Homo sapiens: one gene and its partner. The protein of the gene in region 1 interacts with the protein of each later gene in a biochemical or structural test. Each region holds a gene or a part of one and is shown on either strand. Other genes may lie near its edges.

Evidence for each region.
Region 2: the proteins of VAMP7 (region 1) and SNAP25 form a complex in vitro, tested with the Homo sapiens proteins (one study listed by BioGRID).

Annotation. Positions count from the first base shown.
Region 1 is NC_000023.11:155,894,568-155,898,397, forward strand, and holds part of VAMP7 (vesicle-associated membrane protein 7), read left to right. Parts: intron 1-1,055; coding exon 1,056-1,113; intron 1,114-3,544; coding exon 3,545-3,682; intron 3,683-3,830. UniProt on the Homo sapiens protein: Involved in the targeting and/or fusion of transport vesicles to their target membrane during transport of proteins from the early endosome to the lysosome. Required for heterotypic fusion of late endosomes with lysosomes and homotypic lysosomal fusion.
Region 2 is NC_000020.11:10,225,287-10,229,116, reverse strand, and holds part of SNAP25 (synaptosomal-associated protein 25), read right to left. Parts: intron 2,440-3,830; exon of another isoform or gene 2,337-2,439; intron 1,831-2,336; exon of another isoform or gene 1,679-1,830; intron 1-1,678.

The DNA of each region.
Region 1 (3,830 bases):
CTTATGCTTGCTGCTTCCTCTCTGGAAAAACTCTTTGCTCACTTTTTTTTGTTGTTGTTGTTTTTTGAAACAAGGTCTCACTTTGTTACCCAGGCTGGAGTGCAGTGGCGCAATCTCAGCTTACTACAGCCTCAACCTCCTGGGTTCCAGCGATCCTCCTGCCTCAGCCTCCCAAGTAGCTGGGACTATAGGCGTGTGCCACCACACCTGGCTAATTTTTGTATTTTGTGTACAGACGGGGTTTTGCCATGTTGCCCAGGCTGGTCTTGAACTCCTGAGCTCAAGCGATCTGCCCGCCTCAGCCTCCCAAAGTGCTAGGATTACAGGCATGAGCCAGCCACCACGCCTGGCCTTTCGCTCACTCTTTACCTTGCCATCTGTTACTTATTCTTCAGGTCTTAAATCAGACATCACTTGTTCTGGGAAGTCTTTCTGGTTACCCTTTGGCAAATCTCCATTTCGTGCCTCATCTATTAATGTGTCCCCAGAGCACCATGTACTGCCTTTAACTTTCCTGTCATCCTGTTTGCCATGCTGCACTGTAATTCCTTACACTGTGATCCCTATGAAGACTGGGACTTGGTGGTTTTGCTTTTTTGTATCCTCAGCATCCAGCACAGTAACTAACTCAAAGTGGATACTCAAATGTTGAGAATTTGGTAGAAAAGATGTTTGCTTTAAGAACTTAGGAAAAAGCAAAGAAAACCATATGGCCTATTGGGGGTTAATCTTAATTACATCCTCCTCCTAAGATGTCATCTCTTGTTCATGCTTTAAGAGTCCAATTATGCTTTTGCAGCTATCGTTCTAATGGGTAATACACATGCTGTTGTGCTATGTAGCTAGAATAGAGATCTTTTTATTTCTTATGTACTTCTATCAGTTTGACTTGAAAGAAACAGGTATATTGGGAAGGGGAAGAGGGAGAAGAGACTGTATCCGTAAGTAATATGGTGACATTGGCAGTACTGAACGTGCTTATACATAGATAGAAGATAGAAGTAAAAGTGATGTTGCTTATAACCACAGTAAGTTTTATATCTTTTATTCTACAGTTATTTGTTTCATTACATCTGCCAAGACAGGATTGTATATCTTTGTATCACTGATGATGTAAGTAACTTGAAGACATATTGCTATTTAACTATGTGTACTGTTAATACAGCCAGTTCTTAATTATCTATACCAGGGGTCCCCAACCCCCAGGCTGCAGACCGGTACAGGTCTGTGGCTTGTTAGGAACCAGGCCACATAGCAGGAGGTGAGTGGCCTATGAGCATTACCACCTGAGTTCTGCCTCCTGTCAGATCAGCAGCAGCATTAGATTCTCATATGAGTGTGAACCCTGTTGTGAACTCTGCATCCGAGGGATCTAAATTGCATGCTCCTTAGGAGAATCTAATGCCTGATGATCTGAGGTGGAACAGTTTAATCCCGAAACCATTCACCCTCCCCCAGTCCTTGGAAAAATTGTCTTCTACAAAACCGGTCCCTGGTGCCAAAAAGGTTGGGGACTGCTGATCTGTACCTATAGTGGGCAAACGTGATGCGAACTTTACATAGCTGGAATTGTTAATATTTTGCATTTGTCATATAGAGCAGCAAATGTTAAGAAAACTTGATACTGGGGTATGTGCAAATCAACTCAATTTTGGTAGAGTTTTAGCTTAGCCTCTTGCAACTTCTATATTTATTCTATTTTGTAGTGAGAATTGATGTTCATAATTATAATTCTTTGATATCAAAACCTCTCAAAAATTGTTTACGTGGAATGTTAAATTAGATAGCATCATTTCTTCTATCAGTAGTTAATGAATCCTTTAATGTATGTGAACTTTGGAAAAACAAAATTACAATACATTATGATCAGCTATATAAACCTGTAGTTTACATTGGTTAGGTATGACTGTTTGTCGGCTCTCAGCCCAAAATTCTCAGTAACTTAATGATGTCATTAAGGTCCTTTCTCTTCTCTGCTTATCTCCGTGTCTCCTTCTTCCCAGACAGGTTGCCATTATGGTTTCGTAGAGCTACATACTTATTTATTCATGTCCGGAGTAGAGGGACTGTGTCTTCTTGAGTGTCTTATTGTAGGAATGAGGAAGCTTTTCCCAGCTGCATGCCCTCCCCTCCCCCTGCTTTCAAAGTGAACTTCCTTTCATGTCTTATTGGCTGCATGCTCATTTCTAAACTGCCTACTGGCAAAGAGACTTGGAATTGGCATGGTTGCCATAGATCAGGGTTCCTAATCTTTATTGTATCACAGACTCGTCACTTGTGGGACACTCCCAGAATGTTTTTGTTTTCTTTTTTTAATTTTCCTTTTCCAGAATGCTTTTAAATGTATAAAACACACACAATTCTAACAAAGCCAATTATATTGAAATATATATATATATAGTATTCAAAATATTTTAAAAACTTGATGTAGTAATATATATGCTTCTTTATGAACTCATTAACAAGATCTAGTCATAGGTCTAATAACTAATAGTCTTGATGTGATGGGTGTTGACAGTATTTTGAGATATCTGTAACTGTGATGGTATACAAAAAAAGATTTCTGTTGGTGACAGTTACAGGTACTGTTTAATACTACCCCGATTATGAATATACAACCTATATTCACAATTGAAATATAAGTTAACGATTGATAAAAATAATGATGTGATTTTCTTTTTTTCTATCCAAGTTCAAAGGCCCCTTGAATTTGGACCATTGACCCCAATTTAAGAACCCTTGGCTTAGACTAAGCATCTTGGGTGAAAGGGAAATGACTGTCAACCATAGTGATCATCACAATGATTTTTATCTCTGGCTTCACAATATTTTCCAAAAGTACGAAAAAATCTAGCTATATGTGAAATGACTGATGTGAAACAGCTTGGAATAGAAGGAAAATACTAATGAAATCTGGGATAGTTAGAGTCGAGCCTCATATTTCTTGAGCTATAATTTGATACACACATATACATGTATACATAAACACACATACACACATTCATTTTTTTCCTCTAAGGTATTCTTACAGAGAACACACATACTTTTTGGCTGGCTGGGATTAGACATGAGTATGTCACTTGATCTTTTCAAATATACCACCACTATTGAAAAAATTCGATTTGAAGTTAATATCAGTAGTAGTATCTGTATGTGTGAAAGACTCTATGATTATTATGGGATTTATTAAACATATTCTTGTGCTGGGCCTTCTAATAGATCTTATGAAATATATGGAGGAAGTAAAATTCAATTCCTGATGTCAAGAAGTTGATAACCTAGGTATCATTATCTTCAGTTGTCAATGACCAGATATATCTGGATTCATTCTCAGCTCTTTCATTTACTAGTTGTTGGACCTTTGGACAAGTTAGTTACTTTTTCAGAGCCTTCCTTTACTTATCTTTAAGATAGGATCAATGCTAGTTCCTCCTCAGATAATCATTGCTCAGTAAATGTTAGCTGTTTTTTATTGTTGTTCTTAATCACTCACATCATCTTTGTTTACTTTCTAAATGTGAGTTCTGTGTTGATCTCTTTTCAGGATTTTGAACGTTCCCGAGCCTTTAATTTTCTGAATGAGATAAAGAAGAGGTTCCAGACTACTTACGGTTCAAGAGCACAGACAGCACTTCCATATGCCATGAATAGCGAGTTCTCAAGTGTCTTAGCTGCACAGCTGGTAAGATCTTTCTCAGGATAAGGTATTTTGATTTATATCTTCTTCATTACCTTCAAACACTATGAATCTAGGGGGCCCTGACCTGCAATATAGTTTTCTGATTGTGTTACTGTAAGCCAACATAATAAAACTTCCCTGATTAAAAAAA
Region 2 (3,830 bases), on another chromosome or scaffold:
AGCATCTTTAAAATACAAGATGTTAAGGAAGAGGGGACCAGTGTTTAAATAACAACTGGGCCTCTTCAGGTATCTAAACATTACCCTGAGAAACATGAGGTCATTCCCAAAGCAGAGATGCTAATCAAAGGCATTTAAAAATCTTTCCCCAAATAGAAAAATCAAAGGCTGTTGACATATTTCCCCATTTTATTATGCATGCTGATCAAGCTAAAAAATATGTGATACCAAGACTTGTTTTTAAGCAAACACAACAATAAAGAGGAAAAGAAGCATATGGCCTTCATGTAACCTATAATAAAGAACCCTGGAAATCTGGTATGGCAAATAGCAGGTAACTGAACATAACAACAGTCCCTTCCTCTTTCTCAGAGTGGTGGAGGTAACTACTTCACAAGCATTAGCTCCTTTAGGTCTCACGACAACCACTTGACATATATGCATGGCAGCAATTGCTCTCCTTTTACAGATGTAAATAAAAGTGAGGCTCAGTTCAGATTAGGTAAATTGTTCAGGGTTATACAATTGAAGTGGCAGAGCTGGCATGCAGCCAGCTGACTCTCCACCCATTGCTCCATGAACTTGTTTGGACACATAGTTTCTCTGGTCACTTACACCACCATATCTCACCTGGCTATTTAGCTTGGAGGACTCAGCTTTTTAGATTTGGCTGACTCACGTTCTATGTATCAGCAGTGTGCTTTCTGTTAGAGGATCTCAATGTATTTTGTGCAACTCATGGGATAATTTATGGGGTGGTGGGGAAAACCATGGACTTTGCAGTCAGAGACAAGTGTTCCGAACTCTTTTAAGGCTGCCATGGAAAATAAAGGAAACAACATACATCAAGTGCCCAGTGCAGCACACAGTAGACATTTAGGAAGTTAGTTACTTTTTTCCTTGTGGTCATTAAGTGGTAGTATCTTCAGTCTTCTCTGGAGAAAGTTGGATGCAGAGTAACCCGTGTTTTCATGAGAAGGAATGGGGAAAAAAGATATGCAAAATTCAATGCTCAACTGGTGAAGGTTTTTTTCTAAGGACAAATGGGACTTATTTACCAAATCATGCCCAGGCTTATGATTCTCTCCCAGGCAAGAGGACACTGACTATTTGAGAGGAAAAGCCCAGAGACTGGTGTCTCTGAAGGACACTTTTAAGGAAGCGGAATTGACATGAAAAACTTGTGTCCACCATGCCAATTCTAATAGCACAGCAGCAAATATGTGACCCTGAAAACACAAGTTGGCCAAAGCCATAAATCTACCCCACTGGTGAATGTAATATATGTCTCAAATGGATGTATGAAATATCCTTTTCATCCTAGTGAACAGTAAAACATTTAAACTTATAATTCATATATGCTAAACTGCTTGACTTTAAATGCTCTTAGTGAATGGCTTTTAATCTCTGAATATAAACCTGATTTTAGCAATGCCTTTATTGAGAATCCTTTGATCCTTCGTTAGCATTTTAACTCCTGACTCATAAGTGATAAAACAACAGATTAGAATATTATACCATTTGCCATAGTTTGGCAGCTAGTTAGGGTAAACCTAAGTAATTCCTTGGGACATAATTTTATTCCAATATTTAGGATGAATCTATGTGCAAGGGTACACAACAATTCCTGAGTTATTCTGATCATAACATTTGATCAATAAAAAGCAGGATTACTTACAGTGGTAGAATTCTTTTCTCTGCAAAGGGGTAGCTGGTATCCCCATTCGCTCACTTATTTCCTGCATACATGGGTGTGGCAGGCACTGTTATAGGTACTGAAGATTCAAAGAAAGCTAAGATATTACCCTTGCTCTCAAAGACTTCCAAAGTCTATTAAGAAAGAGAAATACATAAGTAGGTAACTACAAAGCAGTGTGATCAATCTTACAAGGGAGATAGGGGCATTGCTCATTGGTAAGAGGTGAATTTCTAGAAGTAGGAGTTTGGGAAATTAAGACATAATTCTACTTGATCCAGAATCACTACATAATTCTACTTGATCCCGAATCACTGAACTTTGTTTAATGACAGGAAGTTTTCAGAGGAGGAAAGTGGATTGGATTGGGAAGTACTCTCATCCAAAGGATCCTTTCTTAGTCAACCTATTCTTGCATTGCTCCATGAGTTTTGGAGTTGGGAATAGGATTTCTGGCCCAGGAGGTACCATGTTTCTTAAAGCTTGACCCCTTCCTCCCATGAGCGGCAGAAAGTGGTCTCTACAGGGAGAGATCCCAACAGATTGGGATACTGGAATATAGTCATGTATTTAAGGGACATTTTAGTGACATCCTAGTTGATTGCCATGTAAATAGAGACAAGTTCACACAAAGACATACCTTAGATATTTACTGAGTTCGGTGATGGCTGAGGCTGGTTCTTAATATGTATTTGTTTATGATATAGCAATCTCTCTGTAGATACTGACAGCTCAGTAGAAACCTTCAATAGATTGTATATTTTGATTAGAGAGCCATAGCTCTTTTCTACATTGAATTAATGTCTTAGATTCTAAAAGGCATCCCATTGAAACATGCCTTTTAAAATAATGACACCTCAAGAGGGGACACCTAGCATAACACATGGAGGGCAGAAACATGATGATTTTATTTACAGCTCTGACTTTAGGAACCAGTGTATGTTTTCCTGGTACATGGCAGGTGTTCAATAAATATTTGTTCAATGGATTAATTAATGAAGAATGCCATAATAGCAGCTGATTTATGATGAAGCAATACATGGGCAGTGATCATGGAATTGGAAAAAGTAGATACATTCAGCAATTTCTCTGGCATAAATTAGGAATGGACTTTCCCATTAAAATAAAAAATTCACTCAACAAGGCTAATGCGTATTGAAATAGTTTGCCAGTGTTCTTCCTAGCAGTCTTTCTGGCATTTATTTCTGTGCATTTTCTGTTTATTGATAGAGAAGTCACAGTGTGATTTACCTATACCTAGCTGCCAGACCAACTTCGGAATAACTGCAGGGAAATTTAAGAAATTCACTGTTTTGGAATTTGCCAGTTATTATTCTTTGAAACTGTACCAAAGATGAACATAAATAAAGGAGATTAACAACTTGGTCTGAGACTCTTCATGGAAAGGGAACTCTGTCCAACTTGCAGGATTTTCAGAGCTCAACTGAGAAAATTCTCTGAAAAAGGAATGAGGCAGGAGTGTAGGGCTGAACTCTGGCCTCAGGGGGGCACCTAAGAGACTTTCATTTTTTTACTTGCTGTTATCAGTAAAGGACAGAAACCACTGATTCAAGGTTACAGGCATGGAAAGTCATCTCTCAAGTTCAAGATCTGTGACTAGTGTCATTTGAATAAAGGAAGTGATGGGGAAGCTGGGACCAGATGGTCATTTTGTAGAACCTGCCACTTTGGAGGAAAATAACCTTTTTCTTTAAGTAAAAATGGACCACCTTGGAAGATTAAGACACAATGAGTCAGCAGAAAGTGCCAACAGTCTCAATTTAAGACATGAGAATTAGACATCTTTGAGTAATATGAACCATATCAACAACAGCAAAGAAGAGGATGAAATATATTTTTCCACAACCAAAGAAAGCAAGCCATAAGCCCAGTACAGCTGTTATTCAGCATCATTCGGGAGCAGGCATCATTTGACTGAATTTCTCTGGAATCATTGTTAAGCATTTAGAAGGAAATGCTAATCCTTAAATAGGATTTCCCCCCATCTCTTTTTAGGGATACAGATTTGTTCTTACCAGTAAGTCAGTCACTGCTGAGGTTGACCTCTGTAGTCAACAATAAGAAAATCAGTTAGGATTTCCTCTTGTGATACCATGTTTTACCTTGGTGGAAA